Linked DNA regions of Homo sapiens: regions 2 and 3 are each linked to region 1. Evidence: fine-mapped QTL for protein levels in blood plasma. A gene starts in region 1. Each other region holds a variant in brackets. All regions are shown on one strand. Distances are from middle to middle.

Region 1 (12,407 bases):
TTATGACAAAGGAGTCCATTCAGAAAAAGGATATCACAATTACAAATATAAATGTACCCAATACCAGAGCACTCAAATGTAGAAAGCAAATATTAATAGATCTAAAGGGAGAAACAGACTGCAATCCGATGATAATAGGGGACTTCAACACCCCACTTCCAGCAGTGGGCAGACGATCCCAAGAGAAAATCAGTAAAGAACACTGGAGTTAAATCTATACTCTAGACCAAATGGACATAACTGATATTACAGAACGTTTCATCCAACAGCTGCAGAATACACTTTTTTTTTTTTTTTGAGACAGAGTCTCGCTCTGTTGCCCAGGCTGGAGTGCAGTGGCCTCCCAGGTTCAAGCAATTCTCTTGCCTCAGCCTCCTGAGTAGCTGGGATTACAGGCACATGCCATCACGCCCAGCTAATTTTTTGTATCTTTAGTAGAAACGGGGTTTCATCATGTTGGCCAGGCTGGTCTCGAACTCCTGACCTCATGATCCGCCCGCCTCAACCTCCCAAAGTGCTGGGATTACAGACATGAGCCACCGCCTCTGGCCAGAATACATATTCTTTTTTTTTTTTTTTTTTTTTTTTGAGACAGAGTCTCGCTTTGTCGCCCAGACTGGAGTGCAGTGGCGCGATCTCAGCTCAGTGCAAGCTCTGCCTCCTGGGTTCAAGCAATTCTCCTGCCTCAGCCTCCTGAGTAGCTGGGACTACAGGCGCCTGCCACCACGCCCTATTTTTTTTTTTTTTTTTTTGTATTTTTAGTAGAGACGGGGTTTCACCGAATACACATTCTTCTTATCAGCCCATAGAATATTCTCCAGGATACACCATATCTTAGGCCACAAAACAAGTGTCAACAAATTCTAGCAAATTGAAATCAGATCAAGTATCTTTGCTGACCACACTGGAATAAAACTAGAAAATCAGTAAGAAGAGAATTTTGGAAACTGTACAAATATGTGGAAATTAGACGTGTTCCTGAATGGTCAAAGGAGAAATTAAGAGGGTAATTTAAAATTTTACTGAAACACACCAAAACCTAAGGTTGCCGCAAAAGCAGTACTAAGAGGGAAGTTTATAACAATAAGCTCCTACATCAAAAAAATAGAAAAATTTCAAATAAACAACCTAAAAGTACACCTCAAAAAAACAAGAGCAAACCAGACCCAAAATTAGTAAAAAGGAAAGACATAATAAAGATCAGAGCAAAAATAAACAAAATAGAGACAATTTTTTAAAAGATCAACGAAACAAAGTTTTCTTTTGACAAGATAAATGAAACTGACAAACCATTAGCTAGACTAATTTAAGAAATACAGACGAGGCTGGGCGCAGTGGCTCACGCCTGTAATCCCAGCAATTTGGGAGGCCAAGGCGGGCGAATCACCTGAGGTCGGGAGTTCGAGACCAGCCTGACCAACATGGAGAAACCCCATCTTTATGAAAAATACAAAATTAGCCGGGTGTGGTGGTGCGTGCCTGTGATCCCAGCTACTCACGAGGCTGAGGCAGGAGAATCACTTGAACCCGGGAGGCAGAGGTTGCGGTGAACCAAGATCGCGCCACTGCACTCCAGCCTGGGCAACAAGAGCGAAACTCTGTCTCAAAAAAAAAAGTACATTCTTTCAGTCCTTCCACGTTCTTCTGCCTGCTTTGTTCTAGCCGTGCTGGCAGTTGATTAGATGGTGCTCACCCAGACTGAGGGTGGGTCTGCCTCTCCCAGCCCACTGACTCAAATGTTCATCTCCTTTGGCAACACCCTCAGACACGCCCAGGAACAATACTTTGCATCCTTCAATCCAATCAAGTTGACACTCAATATTAACCATCATATATATTAAAAATAAAAACGAAGAGATATTCCATGTTTATGGATTAAAAGAAAGTTGGTTTGCCCCAAATTGGTCATAGGCTAATTGTAACTCTAATCAAAATCCCAGCATATCATGTATGTGTGGAAGCTGATTAAAAATAAGTCTAAAATTTAAATGAAAATTCAACTTGTGAAAAATTCCAAAGTCACTTTTGAGGAACAGGTTGGAAGGACTTACGCTTCCAGATATGTAGATTTTTATATAACTAAGATAATGAAGATATGGTACTATTGAAACCGACTCAATAGTCCCATAGATAGTTTTTTTGGATAAATGTAGAAATGGACGCTTCTGGTCTTAAAGCTTGAACCTTAAGTTTGTTTTAGCTGAGTTCCTTCCTCAGGAAACAACCTTCAGTCCTCTAAAAAAATAAAAAAATAAAGTATCAAAGAACTGAGAATCGCCAGATCTCCACATCCAGACAATGATGCTGGACCGTTCATTCATCATGACTGCTTCCTTGCCCCTCCTTAGTTTTTGTTTTGTTACACATTGTTTCATTTCTTCCTTGCTATGTAAAGCCCTGGTTTTAGTTGGTCAGGGAGATGGATTTGTCAGCCACAGCACCTGATTAAAACGTTCCTCCTTGACAATACTTGTCTCCTCTGTCATTGGCTTTCTGTATGGTGGGCGGCCGGACCTAGACGGAACCTGTGATGTTTTGGTGACAGTATCAGTACAAAAATAGACAAAGCTGAGAAAATGAACCATTCCGTGTAGATCGTTAATGTATGACTGAGGGGGAGCTAGAGAAAAGTGTAGAAAGCATGACCTTCTCATCATGGTCATGAGATAGCAAGATACCTTTTTTTTTTTTTTTTTTGAGACGGACTCTCACTCCGTGACCCAGGCTGGAGTGCAGTGGTGCAATCTCTGCTCACTGCAAGCTCCGCCTCCCAGGTTCACGCCATCCTCCTGCCTCAGCCTCCCGAGTAGCTGGGACTACAGGCCTCCGCCACCACACCTAGCTAACTTTTTTGTATTTTTTGGTAGAGACGGGGTTTCACCATGTTCGCTAGGATGGTCTCGATCTCCTGACCTCGTGATCTGCCCACCTCGGCCTCCCAGAGTGCTGGGATTACAGGCGTGAGCCACAGCGCCCGGCCAGTAGCAAGATATCTTTACGGGGTGAAAGACAGAAACTCGACACATGCACCTACTTTACGCTACACAGAGAAGGCAATTCCAGGGCCCGCAGGTCTAAATATGAAAGAGAAAATAAAACATTAAAATTTATAAGTGATAAAAAATAGTAAATATCTTCATGACATCAAGATAAAGGTTTCTTTAAAAGAACACAAGGCCGGGCGCAGTGGCTCACGCCTGTAATCCCAGCACTTTGGGAGGCCGAGGTGGGCGGATCACCTGAGGTCAAGAGTTCATGACCAGCCTGGCCAACATGACGAAACCCCATCTCTACTAAAAATACAAAATTTAGCCAGGCATGGTGGCACACGCATGTAGTCCCAGCTACTCGGGAGGCTGAGGCAGGAGAATCGCTTGAACCCGGGAGGCGGAGGTTGCAGTGAACCGAGATCTTGCCACTGCACTCCAGCCTGGGCAACAGAGCACGGCTCCATCGCAAACAAAAAATAATAGTAATAAAATAATGAGATAACACAAGTAACACCAGCCATAAGGAAACCAATTTGTAAGCGTGCTGTGTTAAAATGAAAATCTTCTGTCTTCATCCTGCCTCCCAAAAAGAGAGCATTACGGAAGTGAAAATTCAGACCCCGAATGAGAGGAGATGTGTAGCACAATGTACCCAAGTTCCTTTTCCACAGATGGCCTTGGCAGTGTCTGCCATCCCACATGCTCTTCTGCATGTGACCTTGCCTCTCTCTAATAATTGTGGGGAACATGTCCCCTAGGCAGGCTGTGACTTCTTCGAGACTATCTAGTTTCCACCTAGTTCTCTTGGATAGTCACTCTGGGGAAGCCACCTGCTACACAAGAACTTCAACTAATGTGGGATTGTCATGCTGGAAAGACACCGAATGGGCGCACTGGTTGGCAGCCCCAGCTGAGCTTCTGGACAACAGCCAGCACCGACCACCAGGCATCCAACCCAGCTAAGTAAGCCCTTGTCAAATTCCTGACTCTCAAAAGCATGAGCAAAACGAAATAGCTGCTGCTTTGCCCCACAACATCTTGGAGTACTTCATTATACAGCAATAATAAAGGAACTGATAAAAGACTCATATGCAGAATATATAAAGAACTACAAATCAATAAGAAAAAGACAGATGGGGAGTCGTAAAGAGCAAAAGACTTGAAATCTAAATGGCCAATTATAAAAATGTGCTCAACCGCAATGGTAATTAAGGAAAAGCTAATAGATCAGGCATGGTGGCTCACCTCCGTTAATCCCAGCACTTCGGGTGACTGAGGCGGGTGGATTACCCGAGGTCAGGAGTTTGAGGCCAGCATGGCTAACATGGTGAAATCCCGTCTCCACTAAAAATACAAAAATTAGCTGGGCATGGTGGCGTATGCCTGTAATCCCAGCTTCTCCAGGGGCTGAGGCAGGAGAATTGCTTGAACCTGGGAGGTGGAAGTTGCAGCGAGCCAGGATCGCGCCATTGCACTCCAGCCTGGGAACAGAGCAAGGCTCTGTCTCAAAAAAAAAAAAAAAAAAAAAAAATAGCTAATGAAACCGCAATGAGATGCCAATGCAAACCAACTAGAATGGCCACATTTTAAAAACCAAAACTGACAATACTGTGGGTAAAGGTGTGCGGCAGCGGTAACTGCTTACGCTGCCATGATCATGCAAAATGGTACAAATCACTTGAAAAAATACTTGGCACTGGCTACCAAAGTTGAAGACAGCATGTGTACACCAGGAAACACATACAAGAGTGTTGTGGCAAAAGTTGGAAACTGGTAACCACTCAAACTTCCATTAATAGTAGATGGACAAATTGTGGTGTATCCTACTGTGGAAAACTATGCAGTTACGAAAATGAGCAAAGTATAGATCATCACAGCAATATAGATGAATCTCACTAATGGTGTTGAGCAAAAGAATATAAATGGTATGAAGGCACTGAGATAAAGTGGAAAAAAAAAACAACAAGCAAAATGTGAGCTAAACTGTAGGGACACAAACACACAGAGAGGAGTAATAGACACTGGAGACTCCAAAAGCAGGGAGGGAGGGCAAGAGGTAAGGACTGAAAAATCACCTTTTGGGTAGAGTGTCCACTGTACAGGTGACGCGTACACTAAAAGCCCAGACTTCACCTGTACACAATATATGAATTAAGAAATCTGCACTTATGTCCTCTAAGTATACTTTAAAATTTTAAAAGCACATTCTGGCTGGATGCGGCGGCTCATCCCTGTCATCCCAGCATTCTGGGAGGCTGAGGCAGGTGGATCACTTGAGCCCAGGAGTTCAAGACCAGCTTGGGCAACGTGGCGAAAACCCAGCTATGCAAAAAAGTCACTGGGTGTGGTGGCGCACATCTGTGGTCCCAGCTACTTGGGAGGCTGAGGTGGGAGGATCATTTGAGCCCGGGGGGTGCTGAGGCTGCGGTGAGCAGATATCATGTCACTGCACTCCAGCCTGGGTGACAAAGTGAGACCCTGTCTAAAACAACAACAACAACAAAAAAAAAACAAGTATATTCTGGGCGGGGCACAGTGGCTCATGCCTATAATCCCAGCACTTTGGGAGGCTGAGGTTGGCAGATCAGGAAGTCAGGAGTTTGAGACCAGCCTGGTCAACATGGTTAAACCCCCATCTCTACTAAAAATACAAAAATTAGCCGGGCATGGTGCCGGGTGCCTGGAATCACAGCTACTCAGGAGGCTGAGGCGGGAGAATTGCTTGACCCCAGGAGGCAGAGGTTGCATTGCAGTGCAGTGAGATCGTCCCACTGCACTCCAGCCTGGGCAACAAAAGAGAGACTTTGAGAAAAAAAAAAAAAAGTACATTCTGAAAAAAAAAGCAAAACATATATTTTGATGATAAAATGATAAACAAAAGCAGGGAAATGATAATGCCAGGGTAGTGGGCATCTTCTGGGGTTGGTGAGGGGTTTGTGATGGGAAGTGAGGGGATGTGGGGATGTCATTCTACATCCCTTGGCCTGGAGAATGGAAACACAGGTATTTGTTGCTTTAAAATTCAGGTTTATAATATGCTGATATATTATGTACTTTCCATAAGTGTGTTACATCTCATAATCTTTCAAAGCTAAAAAAAATCAATATATGATTGATAAATACCTAACTTCATGTATCGCTTGGTTACCTAGTTTCCCCAACCTTATTTGTTAAATTATCTACACTATCCGCACTGATTTGTGATTCCAGCTTAATAATATAGCCACTTCTTACCTGGATTGGAGAGAGCTGGTAGTGGTTATTGAAAATCTACTCTTGCTTTTTGGCGAGGATGAAAGGGCTTTGGGGGGCGGGGGTGGGGGGATGGAAAATGTGAATGAAACGAAAAGCAGGGAAGGAGGTTGAGACAGTCATGGTCATGGGCTTCATTATTAAACAGGAAAATTCTAGAGACAAACTGAAAAGAGAACGGAAGTCTGTAAGAGGGTTGCCAAGTCAGAAAGCAAAAGCAAAGTGTCGCTTTATTAAAAAGGTGGGGGCGGGTCCTGATTGAGCTGAGAACAAAACATCTGGGGGAGTTCTAAAGCTAGGAGGCCAGGCCTGCAGGGAGGGGGTCGGTCATCCCGGGTGTCCCGCTCACGGGTGCGGCTTCCGTCGACACTGTCCGTCGACACTGTGCAGGTAAACACTGCTGAACGGGTTTTGTTTTTGCTTTTTTTTTTTTTTTTTTGGCTCCCAGACTGGAGTGCAGTGGCGCGATCTCGGCTCACTGCAACCTCCTTCTCCCGGGTTCAAGCGATTCTCCTGCCTCAGCCCCCCCGAGAAGCTGGGATTACAGGCGCGCACAACCAAGCTCGGCGTATTATTTTATTTATTTGCTTGTTTATTTTTGAGACTGGGTCTCCCTATGTTACGCCGGCTGGTGCCACTATTTTCAAAGATGTAACATACTATTTTTACAAGGATTGCTTTCTTGTTTAGTCTAGATTTTACCGATGGAAAGAAAGGACGGAAAAGAGCGCGTGCCGCATTTTGCTCCCCTTTGCCCACCAGGCTCCATCACCTCCGGAGCGCATCGCGAGACCGTCTGCGTTACCCGCGTCCCCGCGCCCGGAGCCGCCCAGGAGGGGGCCCGGACCCTGTGGTGCGGAGCGCGCACTGCTCGGGTGCACCGGACGCCCCGCGGCGGGCTGGGAGGGACGGGGGGAGGGGGGCGCGGGGAGCGGCCTGAATCCCGGGCCCGCCTCCGGCCCCCGCCCCGCCCCGCCCCGCCCCAGGCCAGCCGGCGCCCGCGCGGACACTTTCAGCCCCGAGCCGCGGCCGCTCGGGTCGGACCCACGCGCAGCGGCCGGAGATGCAGCGGGGCGCCGCGCTGTGCCTGCGACTGTGGCTCTGCCTGGGACTCCTGGACGGTGAGCGCGGCGAACGGGCCACCCGCCCGAGCGTGGGGCTGGCCGGGGAGGGGGTACCGCGCACCTGGGGCGGGCGCTGAGACCGCTCCGCCGGGTACGGGCGGGGGACACGGTGGCCCTGGTGCGCGGACGCCTGAGGGGAGCACGGCGCTTGGGGCGCGGGACCTCGGGATGAGGAAGGGGCGGGCGGGGACCGCAGCCGGGTCAGGGCCAGGGCGGCCGGGCCGCGCCTCGGCGCAGGGGTAGCTCTCCCGGCCCCTGAATCCGCGTCTCCGTCGGTGGCTCCGCGTCCTCGGAGCCGGGCCCTGCCGGGCTGCGCGCTGAGCCCGGATCCTTCGCGCCCTTACTCGCTTCCCCGCGGGGTCCCCGCGCCGCGCCGTCCCGACCCACGCGCGCCGGAGATCCATCCCGGCCGGGCCCCGGACTTGGGTGCGCACTTCCCGACGCCCAGCGCCTCCGCTCGCGGTCGGTCCCCCAGAGGGCGCTCGAGGCGGGCTTCCCCCTCCCCGTGGCCGGCGACGGCGGGGACAGGGGCCGGGGACCACCGCGCGCCCGAGGCGGACGGGTGCAGGTGCACGCTGGCACTTGAGACGAATCTTGAGGAGGCGAATCGCGGGCTGTCAGCGCCGCAGAAGGGGCGGAAGGCCAGGGGTCCCCGGATTTGAGGGGACAGGGGCCTCGAAGGCCAGCTGAGGAGCAGAGGCCCCCGCGGGAGGGTCCCCTGCACAGGAGAGGCGGGGTTCGGTTTGTGTTGGGATGTGGCTCTGGCGGGGAGAGACGCAGACCTGAAGCGGAGGCGGAGGGGTTGGAAAGAGGGACTGTGGGGGATGAGCGGGCGGCAGAGGGAGTGGATGGAGATGTCAGGGAGGAAGCTGAGAAGATGAGCTGGGAGTCCCCACGGAGCTGGTGTCCCTGGAAATCAAAGGGTGTAAGGGCGGGGTCAGGGGTTCCAGTGTCTGAAGCCCTGAAGTCAGCGACGGGGACCTCAACATTTCTGCACGCCATAGGAATTAAATACTGGCTTTACATGCTTGTAATTCTCACAGGGAGTGTCAGACCCATTTTACACATGGAGAAGCTTAGACCAAGGACATGTGTCACTTCCCCAAGGTCCCCAGGAGGCCCAAAGTAAGCCTGACAAAGCCTGCCTTTGCTCACCACCTGTATGTCCACTGGCTGAAGGGCAGAGGACAGGAGAGGGGGCAGGTCTGGCTCAACCAGGGGAGGAGGGAGGAGAACATCTATCTGGGCCTCCGAGTCGGGCAGGCCAGATCAGGGCGCTGCCCTTGGCCCTCCTGGACCCAGCCCAGGACCAGGCTCCCACAGGTGCTCAGGATGTATTTGTCGAGTGGCTGGTAGACCTTGGTTGGACTGCAGGGCTGTAGAATGGGAGACGCTTATCCTGGAGGAGACATGGGACAGGCACCTGGGCGCAGTGTCTGAGCTGGGCTGAGTAGCTGGAGAGGAAGAGAGAGACCCGGGAGGGGAACCCTGGAGGAGGGGCCCAGAGGGCAAGGGGGCTTCCAGGGATCCAGGGAACATTCTGCAGGTATAAGGAGAACCAGGAGAGGCCAGTGTCCTGGTGCTCCCGGGTGGAGCACAGAGGGACGTGGGGTGAAGGGTGAGGAAGCTATTCCCTGCAGTAAGTAGTGACTCTTAGTGACCCAGTTATGAAGAGGAGAGAGGGCATTAGTTGGGCGCCCCATGGAGAGGGGTGTCCTGGGCTGGACCTGGGTTTGGCTGGTGGGGAGATGGCAATGAAGACAGAGGTCATCCCTCCGTGAGCCCTGCACCTTGCTGTACCCCCTGCTAGGCTGAAGACCCCGGGAGCCCCCAGCTTGATGGGGGATGCCATGGCGGAAGCACAAGCCCTCAGCTGCAGTCGGGTGTCAGGGCAGCTGGTCCGGTGGGAGCTGCAGTCGGGTGTCAGGGCAGCTGGTCCGGTGGGAGCAGGCCAGAAGCCTGAGCATCCTGAAGCTGACCCCTTAAAAGTGTGCTATTGATCATAGAACCAGACTCTTGTCCTGCCTCTGCCGTAAAGTCCTTTCTGTGTGACCTGGGCCCCCTCCTTTCCCCTCCCTGCACCTCAGTTTCCCCAAGCATAGCCATGGCACAAGCATAGCCATGGCACAAGCATAGCCATGGCACAAGCTGGCAAGCCCCGAGGTTGTGTGGGTTGTGTGTGCTTGGGCTGGACTCCAAGACCCAGATGCCTGCTGCAGTTCCACAGTCTTGCCCCAGTGGAGAGGGTAGGTCACAGATGTCTCTTGGGGCTTAGTCTAGAGAGAGGCCATTGGCACCTCTGCACTGTGGCTACCAGCTCAGGGACATGCAGGAGCAGGGTCTGCTGGGCATCTGGAGTGGCCTGGTCTCAGGACGTTTGCCCTTGCTGTGACCTGGGTCACAAAGGCCCAGATGTGGACAGATGTGTGGCCCAGGGATGCAAGTCACTGCAGGCAGGATGTGGGGATCAGGCCCACTTTACTTGGGCCTGGGGACCTTCTGCTCCAGCTCAGGGCTCTGAGGACTCGAATGCAGGTGCTGTTCCCTCATCCACCAGGCCTATGGCACAGAGCCAGTGTGGCTGAAGGAGTCCTGAGCCCTCCCAGAGCATAGGGCCCACATGGCTGGGCCCAGACAGGGTACGAGGTGTGATGTGTGGTCTGTCTGGCGAATTCTTCACTGTAACCCCCAGCAGTGGCACCCCGACCCAGGGAAGGAGCCTGCAGTTCTATGCAAGACCCCAGCATAGTGCCTGTTCGGGGTGGCCCAGGGAGGACTTGGACCTGGCCCCATCGCACAGGGGTTTCCTGTGCCTTGCAGGGACACAGACATGCCATCAGACGTGTATTGCCCAGGGATGAAAGTGTTCAGGGGCCCTGGTGAGGCCCAGCTGGTGGCTGTAAGCTGCACAGGAAGGCAGTGTCACTTCCAGCTAAGGGCTTCCTGGTGGGGTCTGCAGAACTCCAGGACAGGGAATTCCAAGCAGAGCAAAGAACCCCATGAAGCCCCAGAGACAGGCAAGTCCAGATGGTGAATGTGGCCAAGTGGGTGGTCCGGTGAGGCTGGAGTCTGGGAGGAGTGGATGGGAGGTAGGGGAAACGAGGCTGGAGATGCGGCAGTGCCAGCAGCAAGGAGGCTGGTGTCCAGGGGAGACAGGAACTGCAAGTGGATAACCCAGGGGATAAACTGGGGTGGAGGCAGGTAGCAGCTGGGGATGGTGGGGACAGAGGAAGTCCCAGGTCTCTGGCTTCAAGGATAATTTATCAAAGGGAGACCCTGGGAGAGGAGCAGGACCTTGGGTGGAGGTAGGCAATGGGATTTCCTCGGAGACCTCAGCTGATGCACCCGGCCAGATAAGGAGGGAGGAAAGTTGGGAGCACTTGAGTATGATGGGACAGAGGGGAATGGGGGAACCAGGGAAATTAAGCGAATCAGCTGCAAGGGGAGGTGCTTCTCTGTGTCTGGCTTACTCCCCTCCTGCTGCCGTATTTTCCTCCACAGGGCAGTTTTCTCTCCACCAAGGCCTAGCCTGTGCCCCACGTCCCTCTGAGATGCCCCTCGGAGTTGGGGGTGGGCAGGGAGAGGGGTCTGGAGAGCCTCTCACACCCCCTAGACTCTGAGCAAGATTCAGTCAGTGTGTCCAGCTGGAGCCAGGGATTCCTGAGTTTCGATCCTTTTCAGACACTGGCTTCCTCTGGAATCTGGGTTTTCCGGTCACACTGAGGAGACAGGTCTGGGAGCAGGAAGATGCGGGCATTCATTCCCGGAGGAGGAGCAGGGCGCCAGCCCTGGCCGGGCTGGACGGGGTAACAGCAGGCACACCCCCGGCCCTGTCTGAGGCCCGCACCACCCTAGCCCACGGCCAGGCCTGGGTAGATCCAGGTGGTGAGTAGGGGAGGCCCGCCACGTGGCCGGCGAGGTCAGCAGGGGTTCATGGGAAAGGACTTGTCGGCCACAGGAGAGGACATCCTGCCTGCATTTCCCTCTTCCTGCGGCAGGAGCTGGTGGCCCCGATTTAGCAGCACTGGGGGGCCACCTCTGCGCCAGCTGGGTTGTCTGATAACGCCGCTCGTCCTGCCGGCCAGCAAGCAGAGCCTTGACCCCACGGAAGCCGGGGAAACTGCCTGGCATAGCTGGCTGCCCCACGGCGGCCGTGTGCTGGGAGCTTAGCATCTGCTCAGGCCCCCTCCTCCTGGTCTCCACCCCCACGGGGCACTCAGGCAGCCCACGCTCCCCGCAGGTCCAGCCCTTCTCAACCTCATCACCACTCCCTGTTTCCAGCATCTTCCAGAAATTTGTCTCCATTCTGCCCCAAAGGGACTGCTGTAAATGAGCCTTCAGGGCCCCCCCCAACTCACCCACAAGATAAGCACCAGCTTCTTGGGCTCGTGGTACCGGCCCTTCCTGCTGGAGTCCCAGGCCATCCCTAGCCCCGCGTCCACCCAGCCTCCACCCACTGCACACACCAGCCCCAGCACCATGGCCTTTCGCCCACCCTGGACGTGCCCTTTGGGAGACTGCTGGGAACTCCGGGCAGACGGTGCTGCTCCAAGCGGAAGGGGCCTTCCGGGGCAGGTGATGGCTTCGTTCCCGCTCACAGTGTGCCTCAGACTTTCAGGTGGGTTTAGGGGAAGCCCCCATCATCACCCAACTCAACACACTGTCCTCGAAGCTACTCTAAATTCTACCAAATGGAGATTGATTTGTTTTAAGCAGCAAGCGTGCACCGGCACATGCACACAGATGTGGCGTGTCCGGCAGTGGGCCACACCTCCGTGTGAAATGGTTTCTCAGATTGCTTCACAGCAGGGCACGTACAGGTTTTAACCTCGTCACGCAGACCTTATTATGCTTATTTTGGAGATTAGGAAATTCAGGCCACAAGGGTGAAACGGCTCTCTAGATAATAGATGGCTCATTTCAGGGGGTTAATAGGTGTCTGACATCTGGTTCCAAATAGCATGGGGGCCAAGCGGGAAAGAAGGGGCAGGCACACAGGCCACTGTCCACATTCCCCAGGGAATGCCCTAGAGGGCTGGCC
Region 2 (2,976 bases), 30 kb after region 1:
CTGGGGCTCCTCCCTCAAGGATGCCCTTGGCTCACTGCAGCTCCTCCTAGCTATACCCACTCCCACCCTCCCCTTCCCAAGCCCTGAGACCTTGTGACTCGTGTGAATTTTGCTCTGGGGAGAAGCTCTGTGGTTTACTCAGATTTTCAAATGTGGTAGTGACCTCAGGAGAGCGGAGCCCAGGAGCAGACGTCACTGGGTCCCAGAATGTAGATCAGGGCACCAGCAGAGAGATGTAGATCAGGGCACCAGCAGAGAGATGGAGCCCAAAAGAACACCCGGGGGCTGGGGGGCCACAGGAGCCTGACCAGAAGTGACCAGAGAGACAAGAGGAAGTGGGCGCACGGCACTGGGAAAAGCCAGGGAACACGTTATTTCAGGCTGAGCATGGGGTGGGGCATGGCAAGCTTCAAGAGAGAATGAGGACTCAAGTCCCACTGAGGGTGACAAGGAACTCCTGATGACCTGGGCTTTTGGTGGGGCGGGGGGCAAGCAGTCCAGCTGGGGCCCCTCCAGGAGAGAGGGAGGGAGGGAGGCAGGAGGAGACCCCGGGGCGGCAGGTGGATGGGGGAGCAAACTCCCAGGGCAGTGCCACAGGGCTTCTTCCTCCCTCCACAGCCATCCCCGACGGCTTCACCATCGAATCCAAGCCATCCGAGGAGCTACTAGAGGGCCAGCCGGTGCTCCTGAGCTGCCAAGCCGACAGCTACAAGTACGAGCATCTGCGCTGGTACCGCCTCAACCTGTCCACGCTGCACGATGCGCACGGGAACCCGCTTCTGCTCGACTGCAAGAACGTGCATCTGTTCGCCACCCCTCTGGCCGCCAGCCTGGAGGAGGTGGCACCTGGGGCGCGCCACGCCACGCTCAGCCTGAGTATC[C/T]CCCGCGTCGCGCCCGAGCACGAGGGCCACTATGTGTGCGAAGTGCAAGACCGGCGCAGCCATGACAAGCACTGCCACAAGAAGTACCTGTCGGTGCAGGGTGAGGCTGGCCGCGGGGAGGGCGGGGACGCGCTCTCTTCTAGCAGTAGCTGCCTCTGCCTTTGCCCCGGCGTGGCTCGCCCCTGGGAGGTCTATTCACAGCCCTGGCCTGCAGGAGCTACCCCTCCTGACTATCCGCCGCCCCCTGCGGAGGCGCGCCGCGCTCCTGCCCGGCGCACAACCCCTAAGTCCAGCTTCCAGGGATCCTTTTCTACCTCTGCTCCCAGCCCAAAGAGGGTCCTCCTGCTAAGTGCAGCTCCACTTAGCTCCCTCTCGACCCCTGCCCCCAGCCCTGGAAGCCCCTCGGCTCACGCAGAACTTGACCGACCTCCTGGTGAACGTGAGCGACTCGCTGGAGATGCAGTGCTTGGTGGCCGGAGCGCACGCGCCCAGCATCGTGTGGTACAAAGACGAGAGGCTGCTGGAGGAAAAGTCTGGTAGGGAGGGTGGCCCTGGCGAAGGGCAGGTCCGGAGGCCCGCGAGGCCGACGATCCCAAACCCAGGTGGACCCGCACCTCCACCCCACCCCCTGCAGGAGTCGACTTGGCGGACTCCAACCAGAAGCTGAGCATCCAGCGCGTGCGCGAGGAGGATGCGGGACGCTATCTGTGCAGCGTGTGCAACGCCAAGGGCTGCGTCAACTCCTCCGCCAGCGTGGCCGTGGAAGGTCTGGCCTCAGGCTGCACCCCTCAACTCCCTTCCCGTCCCCAGTTAACGCTTTCTTGTGGCCACCTTGGGCAAGTCGTGGCCACCAGAAGGGGTGCTGCCTGCAGGTGCACGCTCTTACACACACACACACACACGCCGGCCCCTTTCTGCCCACGCAGGCTCCGAGGATAAGGGCAGCATGGAGATCGTGATCCTTGTCGGTACCGGCGTCATCGCTGTCTTCTTCTGGGTCCTCCTCCTCCTCATCTTCTGTAACATGAGGAGGGTGAGTGTCCCTCCCCGCTCCTGATGGAGTCTCTCTCAGGCCTTCCCCACCCTGGCCGCCCCTAAGATAAAGAATAAGGTGCCCGCCCTAGTTCACCTGGCAGCCTTGTTTCCTGGGAAGCCTCCCTGCCCTTCACGCTGGGCTCCAACCCCGCAGAGGTTGTCTGTCTTTTTTTCTGTCCCCTCCTTGACTGAGAACCCCGCAGGAAGTGCCATCTGTCCTGGGCAAAGTTCTGCCCAAGCCACAGTGGTATGGCCAAATCAGTGAGCTGCCCCACTCCTCCCTGTCCCCTCCCCGCAGCCGGCCCACGCAGACATCAAGACGGGCTACCTGTCCATCATCATGGACCCCGGGGAGGTGCCTCTGGAGGAGCAATGCGAATACCTGTCCTACGATGCCAGCCAGTGGGAATTCCCCCGAGAGCGGCTGCACCTGGGTGAGGCCAGCACCAGCCTGCCCAACCCACACCTCCTGCCCGACCCACCTGCTGCAGGCCGGAGTGCCTGAATCCCTCCATTTTCAAAACTTGCACCAGGAAGTTCCGCCTGGCCTGACCTGTCCCTGTGGGCGTGGGTACCTAGAACCTCAGCCAGGGTCCCCAGTTCCCAGGCTCCCTGAGGTCACCTGCTGCCACCCTGAGCAGGGTGTATCTGTCACACCTACCCGGGAGGATGCGCGGCCTCCTGTCCACCTCTCCTTGTCTTCCCGCTGTGGCTCCCCACGCTCCTCCTGCTGCCAGGCCTGTCCTCCTGGACCTCTGCACGGGGCTCCCCCGCCGCCCACCTGTCTCCACGCTCACCCCGTACAGCTCACCTGCAACTGGCCCCCTGCCCCGACAGGGAGAGTGCTCGGCTACGGCGCCTTCGGGAAGGTGGTGGAAGCCTCCGCTTTCGGCATCCACAAGGGCAGCAGCTGTGACACCGTGGCCGTGAAAATGCTGAAAGGTGTGGGGTCAGCGGGCGGAAGGGGCAGCCTAGCTGGTGAGGAGCAGCAGCTCGGGGTGGGCCGGTGGGACGGCAACTCGGGAAGGGAGACTGAGGCTGGAAGCCAGTCTCATCCGAG
Region 3 (12,407 bases), 47 kb after region 1:
GCAGTTTCCCTCCCGTGTAATTCAAAATAAAAACCACACCAAGCCACAGTCGAAGGATAACAAAGCCCCCCAAACCGGGAGGCAGCCTCACATGGATCGTTTTTTGAACTACGAGCTGCCAGGTTGTGAGGCCTCTCCCTGCTTCTCCCACGGCTCCTGCTCTTCACACACTGAGCATATGCTTGGCCACCGTGGAGGTCCCCAAGTATGAGGCGTCCACGGGCCACACACAGCCCCCCTGACCTCAGTGTCTCCCTCCGTGGCAGGGGCATGTGACCCTCACCCTGGGATGGAATGGACGCCTTGTTTCTGGCTCAGCTTCCCAGGGACAGGTGTTAGGTCAGCCGCGCTGCAGGACCATGCCGCACTTTCCTGGCTGGGGGTGGCTGCCCTGCAGGAGGGCCTCAGGCGGGACCCACAGCCTGGCTTGTCCTCTCCACACAGGACAACCAGACAGACAGTGGGATGGTGCTGGCCTCGGAGGAGTTTGAGCAGATAGAGAGCAGGCATAGACAAGAAAGCGGCTTCAGGTAAGGGCTTCGTGAGCCTCCTGCACTGCAGGTATCGATGTTGCCCTCCCCTGGAGGAGGGAGGCTGGGGTCTGGGTGTGCCCAGCCCTCTTCCCGGAACCTTTCGTGGCTCCCTATGGCCTTTTCGCGCGTTCAAGGTGAGCTGCCTGAGACCCCTCCTGACCTACAGCACCGCGGGAGCCCCTCCCTGTCACATGCTGGCCACGTGGGCGCTGGTCCCGACACCTCCCTGTCATCTGACAGAGCTCAGATGCTGTGTCTTTCTGACACCACACGTAACCCACCATGCCCAGGGCACACACACTCTCCTCCAGGTTGGGGAGGCCACCCCAGCCCCAGAACCCCGGAACTTCACCCAGTGGCTCCAGAAGCCGGGTAGATACTGTAATCTGAACTGGCTGGTGTAGGGTCCGGCCCTGTGGGGCTTAGCGGGTGTTCTCCCCGTGTGTGGAGATAAGAGATCGTAAGAAAGAAAGACACAAGACAGAGATAAAGAGAAAACAGCTGGGCCTGGGGGACCCCTACCATCAAGACGTGGAGACCGGTAGTGGCCCCGAATGGCTGAGCACGCTGATATTTATTGCATGCAAGACAAGGGGGCAGGGTCAGGAGGGTGAGTCGTTCAAGTGATTGATAAGGTGAAGCAAGTCACATGATCATGGGACGGGGCCCTTCCCTCTTAGGTAGCTGAAGCAGAGAGAGAGAAGGCAGCATACGTCAGCATTTTCTTCTCTGCACTTATAAGAAAGATCAAAGACTTTAAGACTTTCGCTATTTCTTCTACTGCTATCTACTACAAACTTCAAAGAGGAACCAGGAGGACAAGAGGAGCATGAAAGTGGACAAGGAGTGTGACCACTGAAGCACCACAGGGAGGGGTTAGGCCTCCGGATGACTGCGGGCAGGCCTGGATAATATCCAGCCTCCCACAAGAAGCTGGTGGAGCAGAGTGTTCCCTGACTCCTCCAAGGAAAGGGAGACGCCCTTTCATGGTCTGCTGAGTAACAGGTGCCTTCCCAGACACTGGCGTTACTGCTTGACCAAAGAGCCCTCAAGCGGCCCTTATGCCAGCGTGACAGAGGGCTCACCTCTTGCCTTCTAGGTCACTTCTCACAATGTCCCTTCAGCACCTGACCCTGTGCCCACCAGTTATTCCTTGGTAATATGAGTAATACATCAAAGAGTAGTATTAAAAGCTAATTAATCATGTTTATACTAATGACTGATAATGTCCATGATCATCTCTCTATCTAATTTGTATTATGACTATTCTTATTCTATTTTCTTTATTTTATATATATATATGTATGTATGTATTTTTTTTTTTTTGAGACAGTCTCGCTCTGTCTCCCAGGCTAGAGTGCAGTGGTGCGATCTCTGCTCGCTGCAACCTCCGCCTCCTGGGTTCACGCCATTCTCCTGCCTCAGCCTTCCGAGTAGCTGGGACTACAGGCACCCGCCACCACGCCCGGCTAATTGTTTTGTATTTTTTTTAGTAGAGACCGGGTTTCGCCATGTTAGCCAGGATGGTCTCGATCTCCTGACCTCGTGATCCGCCCGCCCTCGGCCTCCCAAAGTGCTGGGATTACAGGCCTGAGCCACCGCGCCCGGCCACTGTTTTCTTTATTATACTGAAACAGTTTGTGCCTTCAGTCTCTTGCCTCAGCACCTGGGTGATCCTTCGCCCACAGGCTGGGATGTATTTTGGCAACAGAGAAATACCCACATATCCCAGATAGAAAGTGAACTCCATTTGCCCAACATGACAGCCAGGGGAAAAACAGTTTTGGCCATTTTGAATGTTGAAACTTTTAAGGGTATAGATTTAAACAAAGACTTCAGTGTCTGCTTAAAAGATTCATTTTATTTTTATTTTTATTTTTATTTTTTGAGACAGAGTCTCACTCCGTCACCCAGGCTAGAGTGCAGTGGTGCGATCTCGGCTCACCGCAACCTCCACCTCCCGGGTTCACGTGATTATCCTGCCTCAGCCTCTTGAGTAGCTGGGATTATAGGCGTGTGCCACCACGCCCAGCTAAGTTTGTTTGTTTGTTTTTTTTTTTTTTTTTTTTTTAGTAGAGACGGGGTTTCGCCACGTTGGCCAGGCTGGTCTTGAACTCCTGGCCTCAAGTGATCTGCCCTCAGCCTCCCAGGGTGCTGGGATTACAGGTATGAGCCACCACGCCCAGCTCATCAGGTGACTCCTGTTAGTACCTGGTTTTGGAAAATCAATGGTGGTCACATTTACGGAAATAGCTTTGGGCTAATTTTTCGTCACCAAACAGCATTTCGACATTCAAAAAACAAGGTAATTAAGTAAAAGGTGTCACAGAGAATGATCGCCACGTAAATTCAAACCTCTACACACCTTCGAGAAACAGCACAGCTCCTTGAGATCAAAGAAGGCCGCTCAGCCCAGGCCTGTGGCTCAGCTAGGAGACAGACTCCGTGGAAACGTGAGTTGGGGACTCAACGCCAGGACCCGCACGGCTGAGCCTGCACCATGGTGGGAGAGTCAGATAGGGCCGTCCCGTGAGAGGAGAGTGTGACGAGGTCCTTGGGGATGTGGCAACACAGACCCAGGGGTGACGGAGGAGATGGGGCTGCGAGGAGAGCTCCCTTGCCAAGCCCGAGGCACTGGGCAGCCATCTTGCTTCTGAAAGGGCGGCGAGCCAGAAGGGAGTGCAGCCCCTTGGATGCTTGGTGGTAGAGGAAGAAGAAAGTTCCAGAAGACATGGGTCCTAAGGAAGCAAGATAGTATCCAGAAGTCAGAAGAAGACACATGATGGATTTGTTCATTTGAGAAACTGCACCACCCTGTATCGGCAGCAGAGGGCACTGTTCTTTGTCCTCTGTCGACAATGAGCCAAGAAAAGGTGCCACAGGTCTCTGGCGGGTGCATCCGCTTGGCATACAGAATGCTGTGCAAACAGGTGCAAGGAGAGAATGTGCCTTGGTGGGGTGTGGGGAGAAGAAGGAGGAATCTATCTGCCTAGTCCTTCGCTGTCTCCTGTTAACCACTGGTCGGCACTCGCCCCATGGGGGTTCACCTCCTCACTCCTGGGTTACATCATCCAGCCCCTTCAGTACCCACTTAGGATGCCAGAGCCCGTACCTATAGATGTGGCTTTTCACCTGCATCTGTGGGTGGAAGGAGATCAGGAAACTGGGCTTGTGGTCACTCAGCATGGCTGCGTGCAGCCAGTGGAGGGCCTAGCTCTTCTGGGTAAGAGACTAGCTGGCCCCTGGTGGCAGGATGATACGGGACGTGTATGAGCCTTCAGAAGGAAGAATGTGCTCAAAGGAACTTGAGATGCCAAAGATATGGGTTTGAGGTGGCACTTTTAAGTGAAGAAATGTAGGATGCCACCAAAATCCCTAGTCCCATCCACAGGAGAAGTGGCTATTTCTGGTGTAGGAAATCCTAACATGAATAATCCTGAACCCCCAAAAAAGCACCCTCCATACAAAGTTATAGGAATAAGACAGTATTAGAGTTAAAACTTCCCGGTAGACAATTGTTCAAAAGAAACAGGAAAACGAGCAAAATGCTCCAACATGAATTAAACATATAAGGAAACAAGCAGTGGCTTGTTTTGTTGAATCTGAAATTCAAAATTTCAGGATAGAAATGGACGGACAATGTGATGATACAACTGACAGCAGACTAAATTCAGGAAAGAAATCGAAATAAAAGATAGATTCGGCCAGGCAGTAGCTCTCACCTGTAATCACAGCACACTGGGAGGCTGAGGCAGGAGGATCACTTGAGGCCCGGAGTTCAAGACCAACCTGGGCAACAGAATGAGACGCTGTCTCTACAAATAGTAATTTTAAAAATTAGCTGGGTGTGGTGGCCCATGCCTGTGGTAGCAGCCGCTCAGCAGGCTGAGGTGGGAGAGTTGCTTGAGCCCAGAAGGTCGAGGATGCAGTGAGCCATGATCGTGCCACTGCACTCCAGGCTGGGCAACACAGCAAGCCCCCATTTTGGGGGAAAAAAACCCGATAAATCTTTTCTAAAACCAGGGCACCACAGGGACAATATGTATGAGCAGACTGATAGTGCCAGACACAGAGGATGGACGTGAAAAGAGGAAAACAAAACTGAAAAGAGGCAAAAGGATCAGAAAGTGACAGGAATAGAAAAGAGACAATATATATAAAATTGGGAGTCCCAGAGGAAGAAAATGCAAACAGTAAAAGAACTAATATTTTAAACTTACAGTCAAGAGTTTTCAGTAGCACCATGCAAAGCACCAAACAAGAAGTCAACATCTTCAAAAAATGCAAAGAAAGTGAGCGCTTGAGGATGGTGCATGATAGGGCAGGCAGAGAGGAGGGCAGGGGCAGAAACCACCCCCTAGGTCAAGGCGAGAGGCCTGGATTTGCTTCGTGGAGTGACGGGAAGCCGTTGGAGGGCGTGTCAGGAGGAGAATGACATAGTGTAACTTGAAGGACCTCTCTGAAGGGTGGACCACCAGGAGGCCAGGGTGGAAGCACACAGCAGTCCGCGGGAGGATGTCACAGAGCCGGCAAGGACACAGCTGGCTCCGCAGGAGGGCCAGGAATGGAGATGCACGGATGTGTCCTGGAGTTAGAATGGACAGGACTTCTGGATGGATTGGCTTTGAAGAGTGAGGGGAAGGAGGAAGCAAGGAGAACCCCAGGGTGCTTGGCTTGAGCGGCTGAGGGGACGGTGGTGCCGTTCACTGAGATGGGCAAGACAGAGTGAGAACTGGGTTGGGGGATGAAGTTGGACATTCTTCACAGTCTCGGGTCCAGGCTAGGTAGGGACAGAGCTCCAGTGAGTGCTGGATCAGATCGATCCGCTTTGCTGTTTGAGTCGAGTCTGTGTGTGTTTTCTGAAGTCTGAACGCATGCCATGCTCCACTGTGTCCTTGGTGGTTCCCATCAGACCCTGACAGGGCTCCAGTCCCTCCTTGTTTTTTGTTAGTTTGTTTTTGAGACAGGGTCTCACTTTGTCACCCAGGCTGGAGTGCAGCGGCACGATCTTGGCTCACTGAAACCTCCACCTCCTGGGCTCAAGCAATTTTTTTTTTTTTTAAGATGGAGTCTCACTCTGTCGCCCAGGCTGGAGTGCAGTGGTGCGATCTCAGCTCACTGCAAGCTCCGCCTCCCGGGTTCACGCCATTCTCCTGCCTCAGCCTCCCGAGTAGCTGGGACTACAGGCGCCCGCCACCACGCCCGGCTAATGTTTTGTATTTTTAGTAGAGACGGGGTTTCACCGTGTTAGCCAGGATGGTCTCGATCTCCTGACCTCGTGATCCGCCCGCCTCGGTCTCCCAGCAAAGTGCTGGGATTACAGGCATGAGCCACCGCACCCGGCCTCAAGCAATTGTTTCACTTAGCTGGGACCGCAGGCGTGCACCACCATGCCTGGCTAATTTTTGTATTTTTTGTAGAGACGGGGTTTCCCCATGTTGCCTGGGCTGGACTCTAACTCCTGGCCTGAAGCCATCCGCCTGCCTAGGCCTCCCAAGTACTGGGATTACCAGTATGCACCACCCGCCACCCAGCCTTCTTCTCTTACTAACACCACCTTCCCTGTCTTGGCAGCTGTAAAGGACCTGGCCAGAATGTGGCTGTGACCAGGGCACACCCTGACTCCCAAGGGAGGCGGCGGCGGCCTGAGC[G/T]GGGGGCCCGAGGAGGCCAGGTGTTTTACAACAGCGAGTATGGGGAGCTGTCGGAGCCAAGCGAGGAGGACCACTGCTCCCCGTCTGCCCGCGTGACTTTCTTCACAGACAACAGCTACTAAGCAGCATCGGACAAGACCCCCAGCACTTGGGGGTTCAGGCCCGGCAGGGCGGGCAGAGGGCTGGAGGCCCAGGCTGGGAACTCATCTGGTTGAACTCTGGTGGCACAGGAGTGTCCTCTTCCCTCTCTGCAGACTTCCCAGCTAGGAAGAGCAGGACTCCAGGCCCAAGGCTCCCGGAATTCCGTCACCACGACTGGCCAGGGCCACGCTCCAGCTGCCCCGGCCCCTCCCCCTGAGATTCAGATGTCATTTAGTTCAGCATCCGCAGGTGCTGGTCCCGGGGCCAGCACTTCCATGGGAATGTCTCTTTGGCGACCTCCTTTCATCACACTGGGTGGTGGCCTGGTCCCTGTTTTCCCACGAGGAATCTGTGGGTCTGGGAGTCACACAGTGTTGGAGGTTAAGGCATACGAGAGCAGAGGTCTCCCAAACGCCCTTTCCTCCTCAGGCACACAGCTACTCTCCCCACGAGGGCTGGCTGGCCTCACCCACCCCTGCACAGTTGAAGGGAGGGGCTGTGTTTCCATCTCAAAGAAGGCATTTGCAGGGTCCTCTTCTGGGCCTGACCAAACAGCCAACTAGCCCCTGGGGTGGCCACCAGTATGACAGTATTATACGCTGGCAACACAGAGGCAGCCCGCACACCTGCGCCTGGGTGTTGAGAGCCATCCTGCAAGTCTTTTTCAACAGAACTTCACAGACTGTTAGAGCTGCTGAGAAGAATTTGCTTTCCGAATTCAGCCTGGAAGGCGCCCAGGGACAGCTGTACTGAGTCTAGATGACTCTGACCCCCGCCCCAGGTCAAGGCCAGCAGAGCAGTCAGTGCCTCTGGAGAAGGCCCTTGCTCTCCCACCTGGCCCAGACTCCGAGGAGCCTGGGTCTGGAGCTGCCGGTCTGGTTCTTCCCTTTAGAGCCCGGATCTGCCACCTGCGGCCCCTCCCAAGCCGTGAACCAGCTCATGAGAGATGAACACTGTGGGATCCACTCAGGAAGGCTCGGGGCTGGCACAAAGGACCACCCAGCATTGCCCTGTGCCACCCAGCACTCAGTGGACATTCTGGGGACCTGCCTTCAGCCTTTTCCTGCCCTGTGCCTGACATCAGCACCCTGGCTGGTCAGAATGCCGCCCTCCCAGAGGAGCAGCCGAGAGATCCCCTGAAGGCTGGAGGCATTCTGCTCAGGACCCCTATCCCAGCTCACAGTGCCCAACCATCTCACCAGGAGAAAGAGCCACATCCCCACGTTAGGACCACGGAGACTGACCACCACCCTGACCCCCCAAACCCACGCACCAGACGCTTGCAGGACAGGCGCCGCGCAGCGGGCAGGGGCTTGCCCGGCCGACCCTCCCCTCCCCACCTCCCCCACTGCGCGTTACTCCAGGATATGCCGAGTGCACGTATAAGGTCATCTTCGTCGTCCCCGTGGACCTCCCCCTTCCTCTGCACGTCGTCCAACGTGGGACTGGCGTGTCAGGCTTCCCTGGGAGGATCTGGAGGTTGTTCTCTGCAGAGAACCAGCCTGGCTCCTGGCGCGCACCTCTGCTCCCTTCTCCTCACTACCCACCCACGCATGTACCGGGAAAAAAACTACTATGCCCTTCTAGACCATGTTCTGAGAAAAGATCGAAAATATTTAACAAGAGATAATAATAAATCTGATGCCGGTCTTTGTGTGTGTTGCGGACGGGAGTGTTGCTTTTATTGTTTTTGCTTCCGTAATAAATCTAAATGGGAATACAGAACAGCCCCCACATTGGGCTTTTTTTTTTTTTTTTTTTTTTTTTTGAGACAGTTTTGCTCTTTCCCCCAGGCTGGAGTTCAGTGGCGCGATCTCGGCTCACTGGAACCTCCGTCTTCAAGCAATTCTTCTGCCTCAGCCTCCTGAGTAGCTGGGATTACAGGCACCTGCCACCACGCCCAGCTAATTTTTGTATTTTTAGTAGAGACGGGGTTTCACCATGTTGGCCAGGCTGGGCTCGAACTCCCGGCCTCAGCCTCCCAAAAGTGCTGGAATTACAGGTGTGAGCCACCGCGCCCGGCCGCTTTTTTTTTGTTTTGGTTGGTTGGTTGGTTTGTAGAAATGAGGTCTCACTGTATTGCCCAGGCTGGGTTTGGATATTTTAGCTTTCCATTATAATTGACTGAATTTAGTCACTGACCTTGACATATGTGCCAACCCAGGTGTCCACCAACAGGGTGTCCCCCCGTGCCCAGGGCTGAGCGGCTCTCCAAGCCCAAAGTATGCCCCTGTGTGTTGGGAACTGAAACACCTCTGTGCTCCCATCCCGTACCATTTCCCAGCAGGGCTGCGCTCACACTTCCGGGCTCCTCTGGAACTTCCTGGGTTGGACCTTAAGGGCTGGGCTCAAGTGTCCCTGCAGGTCCCAGCCACCCTTTCACACCCCAGAGCACCACTCACTCCAGGAGTGGCTGTGTGGATGGAGACAGCCAGCGAGCGGGGAGGGAGGAGTCACACCAGGCTACAGCGTGCTCGCACTGCGAGGGCCCCTTGGTCCCTTCTGCCTCCCAAGAACCTTCTCACCTTCTCCTCTCAGGCTCCAGCCCTTCTCTGGGTGCCACCGCCCGCCTATGCCTCCCCACCTCCACCCCAGCCCTTCACTCTATTCATTTCTGCCAAGAGCCCTTCGTCACCTGCTTGGGGGAGGTTTGGGGCCCAGGACATGCCCGAATGTCCTTTGATGCTGTTGATTCTATGCTGACGTCCCCAGTGCCTCTCGGTGTGCTCAGGCCCTGGCGTTTGCATCCAGCAGGCAGAGCTCCCGGGTGGCTGCTCAAAGCCACACGTGGTCCTAGGCCCTGGAGTTGGAACTCACAAACCGCAGCCCCTGCTGTGAGGAGTGAAGAAGAGCAAAGAGGAAGACCAGAAGGACAGGCGAGGGAGGGAAGTGGGATGTGGGACAGGAGGCCACAGGGGACCTAGGGCCTGGGAGTCCAGAGTTGGGCCTGTTTCTTATTTTAAGGCTAGACGGGCATTCTGAGAAGGGCTGACGTCTTTCACCGAGAAGGAGGGATCTTGAAGGAGCTTGGCGGGGTCTGCAGGGGTGCTGGCAGGCTAGGAGATCAGAGGGACCCCCGGGAGGGCCCTACACAGCTCCCGCCCTAGATGCTCATTATGCTTGGGAGGAGGGAACCCAAAAAGCAGCTTCCAGCACCAACACCGGCTCCCTCCCTCTCATTTCCCCTGACCCCATCCTCACCCCATTACCACTCCCAGGCCACTCCACCCCAGTGGGCCCAAATCAACTTTTTTTTTTTTTTGAGACGAAGTTTCACTCTGTCACCCAGGCTGGAGTGCAGTGGTGCAATCATAGCTCACTGCAGCCTCAACCTCCCGTGCTCACATGATCCTCTCGCCTCGGCCTCCTGAGTAGCTGGGACTACGGGGCTCACTGTGCCTAGCTTCCAGGTAGACTCTTGAAGCTGTGTGCTTAGCCCAGATAATCAGCCACAGTGTCCAAGGTGCTGGCCAGTCCCCAGGTCACTGGGGCCATCTCCAGCCCTGATCTCTGCATGTGGATTCAGGGAGGGGACCATAGCATCACTGAGCGGGGACTGCCTTTGTGCCTTTGGCAACCACCAAATGAGGCCTGGGTCTCCTCTGCCACTGGGCAGAGAGCCTGGGACAGGCTGGGCTCTGAGGGCTCCTCAGGGCTGGGAGCGGAGGATGGGGTATGAGATGTGGCACCCTGCAGCTGGTGAGCCTGAGCCCAGCACCTCCCCTCGGAGCCTCAGTTTCTCATTCATGACTGCCACCTTGTAGAGCTTTGGTGATAAAAGTCATAAGGCCCCAGTGGTGCTGGGGGTGACCACACCCAGGTAAAAGCCCCCTTCCGACCAAGTGGTGTGAACAGGGGCCTATGAGCCCCCCTTGACTCACCCACCCACCCATGCACCAGCTAACACGTGCTCCCACCCGTCCCCCATATGCCCGATGGACTGAAGGTTTGTGTCCTCCTGAAATGTACATGTTGAAACCCTACTCCCAGTGTGATGGCGTTAGGAGGTGGGGCCCTTGGGAGGTGAGCAGGTCATGAGGGTGGAGCCCCTGGGAATGGGATTAGTGTCCTTACAAGAGGAGGCCAGAGAGCTCCGTAGCCCTCTTTCCACCGTGTGAGAAGTCAGCTGTCAGGAAACCAGGAAGCCCCTCACCAGACCCCCGATCTGCCTGCGCCTTGATCTTGGCCTTCCCAGCTTCCAGGACTGTAAGAAAGAAATGTGAGCCCAGCCTCAAAGCGCTGTGCACAGGGGAAATGCATCCCTCCTGAGGGCAAACTGGGCGGTGTCTGAGGTCAGCAAGCGCCCCCACACTCCCCCCACCCTTGTTCTGCTCTGGAGGAGTAACTGGCTGCAGCCACCACCGCGAGGAGAGGGGACCGTTTCCCCTTCCTGGGCCCAGTGGGGGACACCACCTTCCCCTCAGGGGCGCATCCAAAGAGGGAAGCAGAAACTCCTAAACTTTCCACCCGAGCCACGAGTGGCCAAGGGTGCCATAAAGCTGATGGTGGGCCGGGAGGCTAGAGGATGTGGGGGCTGAACTAGGGCTTGATGGGGAGCCCAGAGCGGCCACAGAGAGAGAGGATTAAGGGATTTGGAACACGCCTGGGGGCAGCATCCTTGGCAGCCTGGGCTGCCCCTCTGTGGCACACAGGGGTGGAGTCAGCCGGGCAGCTCCCAGGGTCCCGCCCATCCCTGGCTGCTCTGAGGCACTGCCAGGAGCTCCATCACAGCTGGCTTGTGGGCAGCAGGGCCACACAGGACTGCCCGGCCCTGGAAGGAGGCAGCTCCCCTGAGAAGGACATGGCCTCCCCTAGGGACAGCCGGGTACCTGGAAGTCATCAGCCAGTCTCCACGGAGAGGCAGCAGTAACGGAAGGGAACGCTCGGAAGGGGCCTTGCTTTGGGACGGCAGCAAGTGCATCTCTGCCATGGTGGGATCTTGGCCTGGAGTCTGGGCTGGGGCCTCCCCTGGGTCTGACCCCCCAACTCTCACCCCTGCCTGGCTGCTCCCAGCCCTGGCACGTGGAGGCAGCACAGGACGCTGTGCCTTCCGGGTCAATGGGCGTGTGAAGAGCATGGCCTGGGCACCGTGCAGACCCATCTCAGACTGCCAGGGGACTGCAGGCCGGTCACTGACGTTCTCTGAGCTGTGTTTCTTCTAAATCGTGAGGGTGATAATGCCCGTCTCACCCCAGTGCCATTCCACGCAGGAAACCACTTCAGTCCCTGGACACGGTGGGGCTCTGGGGACTGAAGTGCTTTCCTCAATGGAATGGTATTGGGGTGGGGAGGACAGGGAGTGCTGCTGGGCACACAGAGGTGTGGAGCCCTGCCCAGGGTCACCTCCTGAATCCCTGCCAGCACCCCTTCCTCAGCCTCCTTCCTCACTGAACAGACTGAAGCAGGGAAGTGGGACCTAATGAGACACGATGTTTCCTCTGCTGCTGCTGCTGTGGCCAGCACGGTCCTTGGAGCAGTGGGGTGAAGCCTCACGGGAGGGCCCTGGGGATAGCACCAGCGCTTGTGTGCCTGGGCCCAAATTGGTATCGGAGGTTTGGCACTGCTGGCTGCCAGCCTGTCACTCCAAGGAGGACAACTCTAAAAAATGGGAGCTGAGAGGCCGGGCGCGGTGGCTCACGCCTGTAATCCCAGCACTTTGGGAGGCCGAGGCAGGCAGATCACGAGGTCAGGAGATCGAGACCATCCTGGCTAACACGATGAAACCCTGGCTGTACTGAAAATACAAAAATTAGGCGGGCATGGTGTCGGGCGCCTGTAATCCCAGCTACTCAGAAGGCTGAGGCAGGAGAATCGCTTGAACTTGGGGTCAGAGGTTGCAGTGAGCCGAGATTGCACCACTGCACTCCACCTTGGGCAACAGAGCAAGACTCCATCTCAAAAAAAAAAAAAGGAGCTGAGAGATGGCAGGGAAGAATGAGGTATGAGGTCCTGGTGACATCCTTTGAGCCTGGATCAACCTTTCCCTGAAGGCGGAGCCACTCCTGGAATTTCAGTCTTTGCTTAAAGCCACGTGGGTCAGCTTTTCTGTCACTTTCACCAATGCCCTGAACCCACAAGGCAG

Alleles and levels. Positions count from the first base shown, and alleles are read on the strand shown. Strength reflects both the effect of a copy and how common the allele is.
For the plasma level of the protein whose gene starts at base 7,251 in region 1, C is the high allele of the variant in region 2 and T is the other (moderate association).
As copies of T replace G in region 3, the plasma level of the protein whose gene starts at base 7,251 in region 1 goes up (weak association).

The links. PIP is the chance, under the fine-mapping model, that this variant and not a neighbour inherited with it causes the effect. Protein levels are from antibody-based Olink assays in UK Biobank. Linkage for the fine-mapping came from a reference panel and not from the study's own genotypes, which makes the PIPs less certain.
Region 2: its variant is fine-mapped to the plasma level of the FLT4 protein (UK Biobank, PIP above 0.99). The variant lies in the coding sequence of FLT4. If it changes the protein, the assay may bind it differently, which can mimic a change of level.
Region 3: its variant is fine-mapped to the plasma level of the FLT4 protein (UK Biobank, PIP above 0.99). The variant lies in the coding sequence of FLT4. If it changes the protein, the assay may bind it differently, which can mimic a change of level.

Annotation. Positions count from the first base shown.
Region 1 is chr5:180,644,444-180,656,850 of GRCh38, reverse strand. It overlaps FLT4 (fms related receptor tyrosine kinase 4), which reads left to right and starts at 7,251. Exons shown (of 30, transcript NM_182925.5): 1 at 7,251-7,363. The coding sequence starts at 7,306. RefSeq lists an enhancer at 10,687-11,352.
Region 2 is chr5:180,619,547-180,622,522 of GRCh38, reverse strand. FLT4 (fms related receptor tyrosine kinase 4) reads left to right here. Exons shown (of 30, transcript NM_182925.5): 13 at 619-981; 14 at 1,271-1,417; 15 at 1,516-1,647; 16 at 1,808-1,914; 17 at 2,215-2,350; 18 at 2,754-2,858. Among named protein-coding and RNA genes, the nearest start is that of FLT4, 29 kb to the left of the region's middle. RefSeq lists an enhancer at 1,493-2,692. The variant C/T (reference allele first, on the strand shown) is at 882.
Region 3 is chr5:180,597,091-180,609,497 of GRCh38, reverse strand. FLT4 (fms related receptor tyrosine kinase 4) reads left to right here. Exons shown (of 30, transcript NM_182925.5): 29 at 445-530; 30 at 6,108-7,992. The coding sequence ends at 6,306. Among named protein-coding and RNA genes, the nearest start is that of SCGB3A1, 12 kb to the right of the region's middle. RefSeq lists an enhancer at 6,420-6,920. The variant G/T (reference allele first, on the strand shown) is at 6,185.